Linked DNA regions of Homo sapiens. The protein of the gene in region 1 purifies or fractionates together with the protein of each later gene. This does not show direct contact. Each region holds a gene or a part of one and is shown on either strand. Other genes may lie near its edges.

Region 1 (7,301 bases):
TACATCAACATGTATATAGTTTTAGATGTTCACACAAACACATTTATAAGAGAGGTACAGTAAGAATCTGTACCTCAAATTTTAGTGTCACCAGAGTATCACTGCTGTAATTTGCAGATCTGACAGTGTTTTTTCTCCTTAGTTATGTGAGTGGAAATAGAGTAGCATGTCTTCTATTAGTCAGAAATTTAACACTTTTTCTGAGAGTAATCCCACCCATACATAATTACATCATGGCTCGACTTTTCAGAGTTGCCAATGTACTGTCATTAAATACTCAATTATCTTAGAGATTTTCCTATTCCTGTGTATTCCACAGGAAGAGGAAAAGTTGCCTGGGTGTCTAGCCAGTACTTCATGCCATCTTCCATGTAATTTTTCTATCAGGTTAAAAGTAAAGGTAAGTACATTTTTGTGGCAGCTTTATAAATGTGTTTGGATTCAACCAAATCACTATTTCTAAACAAAGGATTCTTAAGGAATCCTTTATTTAATAAAATACACATGAATGATGTAACAAGGAAATAACAAACCTCATAATTTTAGTTTGTTTATATTTGGACATCATAAAATTCAGGGTTTAAATGATTATTGTGCTCTCCTAAAATTACACAAGTCCTATGAATGTTCTAAACCAAACAAGTATTTCTTAAAAAAAAAAAAAAATTGATATGGAAGAAGATTCTGTAGTCTGTCTTGGAAGCCTATCTTCCTTTCACTGGGAAGCTCTTTCTAGAGCTAGTATACTAACATATGTTAGGATTTGTTTCTTTTTCTTGTTCTGACCTCAGTGAAATTGAAAAAGATTGTCATTATGTTTCATGTTATTTCTATAGTTTCATTAATCTCGAAAAACCAAACCAAGTAAAAAAATTGTTTGGTTCGAGCGTGAGTTAAAAAAATACATATTTTGGATTGCTTATAGAAGTGATGTTATGTTTCTAATTTTAAAAAATAAAGATTTATCAAGAGGGATCCATTTGATTAGATGGTTCTATTACATATTTTTTGATGCCTCCTGTGTTTCAGAGAGTACTAGGTGCTAGGGACACAAAACAGACGTGGTACTTGTTTTCATGGGCTCGTGGTTCTTGTTTTCCACCATCTAATGGAGTGAGGAAGTTTTTTCTTTAAAAGTAACAATGAGTTGATATCTTGAGAATAGTAGGGGCTAGACAGGCAGAGAACAGGTGGCATGAACACTATATTTGAAGTTTCTGAAGTGAAAAATAACTTGGCAAAATCAGAAAGCTAAAGGAAGGCAAGGGTTTGTTGGATTGTAGTTGTGGGGAGTTGGGGAGCAGAAAGAGATGAGAGTGGACAGGTAGGCAAGGACCATCTACTGTTCCTTGTATACTTTGTTAAGGAGGTTTACAAAATTATTCTCAGCTCAGTAGGGAGCAGTAACATCATCTGTTCTTGTACTTTTAAAAGATAACTTTGTAAAGAGAAGAGGCAAGAGATGGGAATGGTTTGAATTAGGTGGTAGCAATGGAGATGTGGAGAGAAGTGAATGGATTTGAGATCTCCATAAGAATCTATAAGGCCAGACAAAGACAGGTACACTATATTCAAAGCAGAATTCCTTTCTGCTTTGAGCAGCTCAGTAGACATAGATGCCTTTTACTGTGTTAGGAAAGATGAAAGGAAGAGCAGACTTTAGGTTATGGTATGTTCTCAGTCACATTTTTTTGTTGTTACTTGGTAGATAATATGTAACATTCTATGATTAAATGCTGGTTTAGGATTCAGAATATTAAAGAAATGTTCTTGTCTCATAAAGTAACTGAGGGTAAAGATGATATGACGATGAAATACGTGAAACATTTCTTCTAACGAGGTAATCTACTGAAAGATTGGAACGTTCATTGTGTTTTACATGTGTTTTACTCTAGCCGTGTAGGACGCTCCAAACAAGCAGCTACTAAGGAAAATGATTCAAGTGAAGAAGTAGATGTGTTTCAGGGTAGCTCTCCTGTCGATGATATTCCACAGGAAGAAACAGAGGAGGAGGAAGTTTCTACAGTAAATGTATGTGTTCAAAGTTTCTGTGAGTGGTGTGGGATATAAAAAGAGTTAGTAAATGTTTGGTTAGATCATTTAGTACTTGTTTAGTATTTATATGTTTTACTTCATTAGTTCATAGCATCATTTTATCTACCAGGTTGGATAATGGAGAACATCTTTTATGGAAACCCGAAACTAAGCAAATAGGTGTAGCTTAATGAGAATGTAAATGTCAAGTCTGAACTGAATGTACAGCATTCTAATATTGACACTTTAAGCATGTAAGTTGTACCTTGATTTTAGGGCACTGATACCCATTAAGTATACTGTTGTTTATATTTTACAACTCTCCGTTTGGTATTTCTATTTGGGTTTCATAATAGAAATTAGAAGTTAGTTACACAGAATAAAATCAGCCTTTGGAATTGAAGTTTGAGCTGAATGAGAATTCATAAAATTGGTAATACATACTTATTTTGCAAAAGTAGGTATGTGTTACTTCCTGACTTTTTTGTTTTTGAGACAGAGTCTCACTCTGTCACCCAGGCTGGAGTATAGTGGCGCACGATCTGGGCTCAGTGCAACCTCTGCCTCCCAGATTCAAGCAATTCTCCTGCCTCAGCTTCCCAAGTAGCTGAGATTACAGGCCAATGCCACTGTGCCCGACTAGTTTTTGTATTTTTAGTGCAGACAGGGTTTTACCATGTTGGTCAGGCTGGTCTCGAACTCTTGACCTCAAGTGATCTGCCTGCTTTGGCCTCCAAAGTGGTGGGATTACAGGCATCAGCCACTGCACCCGGCCCTTCTTGACTTTTAAAGTAATAAATAAATAACTTTACCAGTTAATACAACTCAGATATTTCTCTTAGGAAAAAACATAATACATTTAAGTAGAAGCTCTTCTCCTATCTTTGTTTGAGAAACCCAAGCTCTATAATCAAGTCTCAGAATTGGTCTCTGCTGTTCTGTCCTGTTTAATGGAATCAGAACTCCTATCTGTACCAGGATTCATATTTGTGAATAAGCGAGTTAAGTACACAGGAAAATATGCATAATTGTGACCTCAAATTAGTTTGGCTTGTTTCTTAAAGGGTTTTGGGGAGGACATCAAAGTAAGTCTGAAGAGTCAGTAACGATTGATGTCTTCATCAGAGAAAAACTACATGTAAATTAAAACCCTCTTTTATATTCCTATTGTTAATATTGACATTTTTTGAACTAAAGTTTTATGCTTTCATTAGTGCTTGTCAGCAAATGATAATATGTTTGAATTTTAGGTTATTTTACTGTATTGATAATTGTTAAGATCCAAACTCAGTAACTGCTTTCCCAGAAAGATAATGTAAGTTCATAAATGTGAAATGTTTTCATTTACCACAGGAAACATAAGTAGAAAGATGATTAATCTGTTTGAGTTATTTTTCTTGCTGTAGACATTGACTTCTGTTCATTTCTCTTTAAAATTATTAGATAGAAAAGTAAAATAATTTTTTTCTTTCACTGTTCTGGGGAAGTCTGTGAGCCTGTAAGGGATCAAATGTTATAGAGGTCTAAATATGTGATGCCAGGGCAGAAAGTAAGGATAAAAAGTTTCAGGGAAAGGAAAGCAAAGAAAATCAGGAACAAATGAGAATAAAGATTAGTTAAAAATGATTACTGCATATCTTATGCACATATACCCATTTTAATTAAGCATCTGGTGACTTTCCTTTTAAGGTACGGCGGCGAAGTGCTAAAAGGGAACGGCGATGAACAAATGTAATTAATAACTTTCTCTGTGAAAGCTTTGGAAAAATCTTTTTTTTTTTTTTTGGTCAAGCTTGAGGCTGAATAAAGCCTTTGATGCACAAAATGGGACTGCTGAAGAGTGGACAGTTGGACCTTACTTTGGTGACCCCATACATTTGTGGTCACATGCTTTAGCCATACACATGGTAACATTGACTATGGAGTCTTGTGAAAGTGTAATGTGCGATGGCTATGTAGACATAAAGAAGAAACTTGTAAATATCTTTTTTCTTTTTTTTAATGTTTCTGATTTCTGAAGTGCTTGTATAGCTTTTATCTGCGGCTTTAAACTGACAGTACCCGACTGTTTATTGGATCTATTGATTTGAAAAGAATTTGTTAGGATAGATCTTAAGCAGTAATCTGTCAGTGTTTGTATTTGTATTCTCTGCAATTTTACTGTGAAAAAAAATTTGTTTTCAACAATTGGTGTCATTTTCTTGATGTCACTATTTGTTGGAGAGTTAAATGGTCTCTTCCCTTTGTGTATCTTACCTAGTGTTTACTCCTGGGCACCCTTAATCTTCAGAGGTGCTAAATTGTCTGCCATTACACCAGAAGGATGCCTCTGATAGGAGGACAACCATGCAAATTGTGAAATAGTCCTGAAGTTCTTGGATTACTTTACACCTCAGTATTGATTTGTCCCAGAATTTTCTGGCCTTTCATGGCAATGAAAATTTTAAGAAGAAAGATTTAAAGTATTTTAATTTTAAAGAGTGTGTTATAAAATAATGTACTGAATTCTTTATCCCATTTTATCATCCTTTCAGTTTTTATTAATCTACTGTATCAATAAAATTCTGTAATTTGAATGAGTTTTTAATAGTCTAGAATGTTATTGTGTATAGATATTTCCTCTTGAACGTTATGTTCAGAAAATGCAAATTACACTATAATATAAAACCTGATATATACACATTAGAAATATTCCAGTTCTCCGTAACAGTGTAAAGTTAATCAGAAAGAAAAAATTTTATTGATGCAGTGTGTCTTTATAAAGCTGTTCTTGAAAGCCAAGTGTTTTGTATTTTATAGTGAGTTGCATGTTTTTGAAAAAAAGTGCTGAAAATGGGATGTGCTGTTTTCTGTAAATTCATATTTAGCCATAGTATATGATAGATTGCCCCATAACATAGTTTTTCATCAAGAGTTTATTATTGTACTTTATTTTGGAGCCAAAAAATTGATTCTGGGGGGTGGGGGCAGCGTAGAAGTGGTATATCCAAGTATATCAGCTACTGTAGTTGTCACAGTCTTGTGAACTTTGAATGAAATTCCACTTTGTCCAGATTGGGAGAAGTGGAAATTTATTTGGATTTAGAGCAGGTCTTTTTTTTTCTTCATTGTAATCTGCAAAATGTAGAAATAAATTACTTAAGGCAGTATCCTTTATACAGTTGTATAAACTGTATTTTGAACCAAAACATATAGGTTACTACTTAATGCTTACCTAATTTCATTTTAGTATTTTAGGTGCTGTTATGTTTTTTCATGGTTAACACCAGAGGGGAAAAAATCATATTCTAACTTATTAAATTTATCACATTGAATAGTGGAACATTTTCATATGATACACCATTATGTTTAAGATATATTTCCAAGATTGGTTATAATAGATGGGGCATATAATAAAGAAGCTACTATTTTGGAAAATGACATTTTACTATTTGCCAATGTATATTGCAATTGATGTGATTATTTTTCTTTTAAAGATTTGTTTGTGTTTATGAAACAGCCATTTATTTTTTAAAAAGTGTTTTGAATTGTGTCTTAATCTCTCCATATTCAACTATTCTTCATTTACAACAATAGTGACACCAGTAATTATGAGAGGCTGTCATATATCAAAGCAGCTCAGGTGGGATCAACATACATTGGTTTTGAAATGTTTCCTTAGCTCGGTTCTCCCAAACACATAATTTCTGTTTCAGCAGTACAAAGGCATGTTTTAAAATCTATAACATAAAGAATAAGGAATAGCTTTGTATTTTTGTCATTGATTAAATTGCACCAGAAATGTTTATGGAAATATTAAGAACATTTTATAAAACATACGAAAAAGTGATTGTGAAGGATTTTTATTTGCATGATTATAGTTAAGCAAATTTCATTTCACATTTTTGTAATGCTGTACAGCAGTTCACAAAAAAATGTTCATTGTAGATTTTGTTATGTTCAATGCCAATGAGTCTGTAATTTTACGACCTGTCTGTTCTTTTTTTGGGTGGATTACGATGTAAATTTTTCTTTTCTTTCTTTCTTTTTTTTTTTTTTTGTGTAGAAAAATAGGTGCAATAATGATCAAAGTTTTGATGTCTTGAGTCTCCATCTTAGGGGATTATCTTACGTTTAAGCTTAACATTTCATGTAGTAAGATTTGGAGAGCCACATACTTTACAGTAAAATTAAGTGTGTATAAAACATTAATTGCTAACAATTGTTAGCAAACTATTTCAGTGATAATGTTCATTTTGAAAATATGTACTGTATAACATTAAGAAAATATTTAACTCCCTGTAACAAGTTCCATTATGAAAATCTTATTCCTCAGTGAGGTTATCTTGCTGCACTCTGTAGCAAATTTGTTTAATCTACATTATAATAAAATTTCTTGCTGCAGTGCAACAGGAGGCTTTTTCAGTGATCTTCACTGTATATGTAAATTACAAATGTGGCTGTAAAACTTATTCCAGGTATTAAAGGTTAAATTGCTTTCTATATCTTCTTATAACTTGTAAGTCTGATTTTTAAGATTTCCTTTTGTCCACTTGTAAGAATGTCAGGAATTTAAGAATTTGTTTAAATTAGGCATATCTCTGCCATCACATAGTATTATGTCACCATAATGAACAATTGCTATTTAAATAGATAACCAATTTTCAGACACATTTTTGGATTTCTGTGAAGTTGAATAAACATAAAAGCTAATACAGTTGTATTATTTTGTGTATGTAAATCAACATATATATTTAAATACTAAATGGAGAAAGGCACATTTGATGATTTTTAATTTTGGAGCCTTTGTTTCATGAAGTGGAAACACGTCTCAGTAACTTTTTCCAAACCTTTTGTTTAAACTTCTCATGCAAAATGTTGGCGGACAGAGAATTCTAAGTATTATTTAAGTTGAATAATTGCGTAACTGAACAAAATAAATGTATAATATAAACTTTAAAAATAAGCACTAAATAAATAAGTTGCCAGTAGCAGTTTTATTAATTCGTTCAGCAAACATTTATTGAGTGCCTTCTATGTGCCAGGCACTCAAAAATTTTACTCAGTTTTGCAGAGGATAAAGTGTGATCAAGATAGTGTAAGTCCCTGCTTTTGTGGTACTTTCATTATGTTAGAGGTGGGTGAATAAGAAAAAAAAAATTAATATATGATGTCAGATTGTGAAAAATGCAGTGAAAAAAAGGAAAAGCAGGATAGAAAGTACTAATGATAGGTGGAGAAGTTATTTTATATACTTTGAAACATACAGTTTAGGATTGTTATATCTT
Region 2 (4,307 bases), on another chromosome or scaffold:
ACCTTTGCTGTTCTCCCCACTTTACAGATAAGGAAACTGAGGCCCAAAAAGGTTTGAACCCAGGTCTTCCAAGTCATTCAAGTGCTTTCTCCACTGTACAGGTGGTTATCAACCTTGGCTGCGCATCAGAATCGTTTGTAAAGCTTTTTCTTTTTCCTTTTTAAAAAGTAAAGCAATATATACACAGGTAAAAAAATAAAATAGTACAGAAGGGCTTATAATGAGAAGCAGCAGTTCCCTGCTTGCACCCCCACATCCAAAGGATGTGGAGCTCTTTAAAAATAAATTGCTCTGGTCCCACCTCTGGAAATCTGATTCAGCCAGCATGGATAATAACCCAGATAACTAACCCCTACCTCACAGGATAAAAAGGATTACATGAGATGCCTTAGGCTAAGGCCCTGGCACACAGGAACACATGTGCTACAAAGGAGCTTTGGGGACTTAAGTCCTGAGGATCCAGGAGGTGAGGTGACTTGTCCAAGATTCCACTGGTTTAGTGGCAGAGCCTAGACTTCCACTCGGATCTATTTAGTGCTTGCCCCCTGCTCTCTCCTGTCGTGCCCCACCACCTCCTGGCATCACAGGGCAACCGTTGTCAAGGCTATGCTCACGGGAGGCTGGGCACCACAGTGTTTCCAAGAGCAAGCTGGATCCGAGTAGATTCCCTAGGGCTTGTTGGAGGAACTAGTTTGACTCCCTTATACTGTGGACGCAGTAGCCTTGCTGTAGGGAGTTGAAGAGTACTCCACAACAGTATCTTAAGTTTAACTGGGCACTTCCCTCTGGAAATCACAGTGTTGTGCACCAGGAACACAAAGATGAGTCAAATCTTTATCCTGCCTTTGAGGAGCTCACTGTTTAGTTGGGGAAACCATTTGTAAAACAGCCATTAACCATACAGTGTGATCAACACTGACAGGAGCACAGGAAAAACATCTAGCTTATGTGAAGATTCAGAGAAGGCATCCTGTAGTCTAGGTGGTGATACCTGAACTGAGTCTTGAGGGACGGGTAGGAATTAGCCAGTTGAGGAAGTAGAAGGAATTTCCAGATATTGGAAACAGTATGCATGAAGACATGAAGGCAAGAAACAGCAAAACAAATACTGAAGCATGAAGATTCCTGGGGTGGGGGGAAAGCAGCAAGAAAAGGTAGAGAGGAACCAGATTGGAAGAGGGTCGTAAATGCATGGCTACAGAATTCAGATTTGTTTTGTAGGACAGTGTGGTTCCCAAACTGGCTGTATACCACAAACAGGTACGGCATTCTGGGCCCCGGCCCCTAAAACATTCATTAAGTCTGGGGTGAAGATTTGGAATCTTGAATGCTTATAAAGGTTACCACATGACTAGGGTACAGCCAGATTTGGAAACCATAGCTTGAAGGCAGTGAGGGAGCCATGAAATGGTTTTTAATAGGGGGACTCCAGATCAGATGTGAACTTAACCTGTTTCTGGCTGGCTAGCCAACCAGCATGGAAAACAGATTAGGTTAGATGTTCATGCTGTATGTGCCCGTGCCTGTAGCTTCCCTGTTAATCAGCTTCTTACACTACTATATTTGCTTATTTTGTCTCTGAATAAGCTTTAGGCACCACAAGGGTGGGCCTGGGGATATTTTGCTTACCAGTATAGCCCCTGCAAAAAAGCACAGTGCCTGACACAAAACAGGCACCCAGTAAAGTTTTTGAATGAATGAATGCATGAGTGAATCCATTTGTGAGAGAGCGAATGGAGATGACAAGATTAGCTAGGAGACTGGAAAAAGACCAGGAGGCCTGCACTAGGGCAAAGGCCAGTAGGAATAGATTGGAGGTGTTAAGGTGTGAACTGTTAAGGTAAGATGATAACTTAATGACTGATTATTGGATGTGGAGGGTGACTGAGAGGATAGAATGAGTACCCATGAATAGCCATGATTCCTACCCTGTCCCAGTCATCTCTTTCCTTATCCATCTCTGAAACAATCTGCTTACATCCTCCTCAGCAACTGGAATTCCTCAAGTTAGTTAGACATTCTGTGTGCTGTGTGGTCTCTCACTGCCCCCCCACTCCCCACCCCTCCACAAGCCATTGATTCATTCATCCAGTTCAATAAATCTTGGCTAAGCACCTCCAGTGTGCAGTAAGGCTCTTCCAAGCCAGGACTCTGACTCCCTCTTTCCTACCTCAAGAGATGTTTTTGAGGGCTTTCCCAGGTAAGAGTCACATCTCTTATACAATAACTTATAGTGAGATACCCAGAATGTCAGACTTGTAAGGGAAGACTGCCCAAACCCCTTCTGAGGTCCTCAGAGGGGAATTAACTTCCTAAGGTCCGACTGCTAGGAAGTGTTGGAGCCAGAAATGGAAGCTAGGTTTCCTTTCTATGTCATCTCTGGAGTCTTGATCTTGATCTATCCCATTGTAGATCAGGACAGGCAGAGGTGGTCAGGGAGAAGGTGGGACTTAGGTTGAACCTTGAAGGTCAATGTATTGGACAGGTCAAACAAGATGGTTGCCAATTACACTGCCCCCTTCTGGAAACCCTTAGCAAACCTGCCATGCTTGCAGTCCCTTCTAAGGGGTTTCCTTAGCATAAGTTGCCATGCTCTGTACCATGTGACCTCACAATCCTGGCCACAGATAGCTAGATGTGGATAGTGTCTGGTTCAAGGGCAACCAATCTCTAGGCTGGCCAGTGGCCTGTTAGCTGGACTGGCATAAGGACTTCACCTTACAGGGGTGGCATGTATCAAATGGCAAATGTATGAAACAACCAGATCTTTCAGGGAGGCAGAATGTGAGCTATTCAGAAGAAGTGAACGTTAATTAGAATTTAATGAGGCATTAGTGGTGGTGGATGAGGGGTGGCCAGAAACTAAACAGCAAAAGCAAAGAGAAAGCTGCAGAAACCATAAGTAAGCAGAGGTCATGAGACATTTGTATAATGAGATCACGGAGCCACAGGGTGGCAGAAGCCATGAAGCAGCAAGGCAACAATGGGCTAGAAGCCATGAAGCAATAGGAGCCACGAGGAACAGAAACCGTGAGACAAAACTGACTATGAGATCCACAAAGCAGCAGAAGGCTTGAATAGATAAGATCATGAGACAGTAGAAGCGATGAGACTGCAAGAACCACAAGGTAGCCAGAACCATGTGGCAACATGGCAACAGGAATGGAAGAGGCAGCAGGAGCTACAATGCAGAAAAGCCATGGATTAATAGGAACTGAAGCGCCGGGAGCCATGAAGCTGCAGGACCCATGAGGCAGAAAAAGCCATGGGCTAGCATCGAGGGGGGCAGAAAGAAGTTAGTCAGTAGCAGTAGGAGGAGTATAAATACAGCCAGAAAGGAGTTGAGTCACCAATTTGGGAAGCACTAGAGAAGGGAGCAACAGATGCCTGCAGCTGAGGGGGTGACAAGATAAGCCAGGCTCTAGAGCTGCTTTGGATCATGAACCATTTTCAAGTTTCTGTTCTTCCATGAGGCTGCCTGTGTAGCTGTTCTTGTCTTCCTTATTTCCCTGTGAATGCTTTAATAAATCCCCATCACTAACCTGTGTGTGTCTTTGTTCCTTGGAATCTAAAAGGTTAACACTGGTGTGCAGTTTAGATAACAGGAAAGCAGGGCAAGAGGTCTTCCTGGTGGGGTTGAAGCAAGACACAGAGGTGGGAATTCACTCATCCTTTCCTGCCTCACTGGCATGGGCACCTTTCATTCACTTACTTATTTTTATCATTCATTCATCCACTCATTTATTTATTACCTTATATATGCACTAACTCACAACTTCACTCACTTATTCATTAATGCATTAATGTAAGCATTTACCAGTTCATTTGCTCTTTCCTGTATTCACTCATGCATCATTTTTCCATCCATTTGTTCAGCAGGCATATGTTAAATTCCTGTCATGTGTCAGGCCCTGTGCTAGGTTCTGGGAATTAGATATACATGCCCTCCAGGAATTCTTGGCTTAATTGGGAACTCAGATAAGTAAGTGGTTAAGCACACTAAGTGTGGAAGATGATATAATGGACGTCTAGGTGAGGCAAAGTGAGCATATAGGAAGTATTAGGTGGTTCTCCCTGGGGTGGGAAAGCCTTTATAGAGGATGGTACACTTGAACTGAGTCTTGAAAGAGGAATGAGTGCTTACCACTTGGAAAGGGAGGAAAAAACATTCCAAGCAGAGGAGCTGCCTAAGCACAGTTAAATCAAGAGGGTGAAAGTGCATGGATTTCAGGGGGAATGGGGCATCACCCATGCAGTGAGAGAAGTGGTGGAATCCAAGCAGTCAAGCTTAGCTTTGACTCTGAGCA

Evidence for each region.
Region 2: the proteins of PDS5B (region 1) and SMC1A purify together in Homo sapiens (affinity purification with western blotting; 8 studies listed by BioGRID and IntAct, with this or other methods). This does not show direct contact.

The regions. Positions count from the first base shown.
Region 1 is NC_000013.11:32,771,294-32,778,594, forward strand, and holds the end of PDS5B (sister chromatid cohesion protein PDS5 homolog B), read left to right. Parts: intron 1-1,895; coding exon 1,896-2,031; intron 2,032-3,723; coding exon 3,724-3,759; 3' UTR 3,760-6,726; downstream 6,727-7,301. UniProt on the Homo sapiens protein: Regulator of sister chromatid cohesion in mitosis which may stabilize cohesin complex association with chromatin. May couple sister chromatid cohesion during mitosis to DNA replication.
Region 2 is NC_000023.11:53,373,383-53,377,689, reverse strand, and holds the end of SMC1A (structural maintenance of chromosomes protein 1A), read left to right. Parts: 3' UTR 1-3,541; downstream 3,542-4,307. UniProt on the Homo sapiens protein: Involved in chromosome cohesion during cell cycle and in DNA repair. Central component of cohesin complex. The cohesin complex is required for the cohesion of sister chromatids after DNA replication.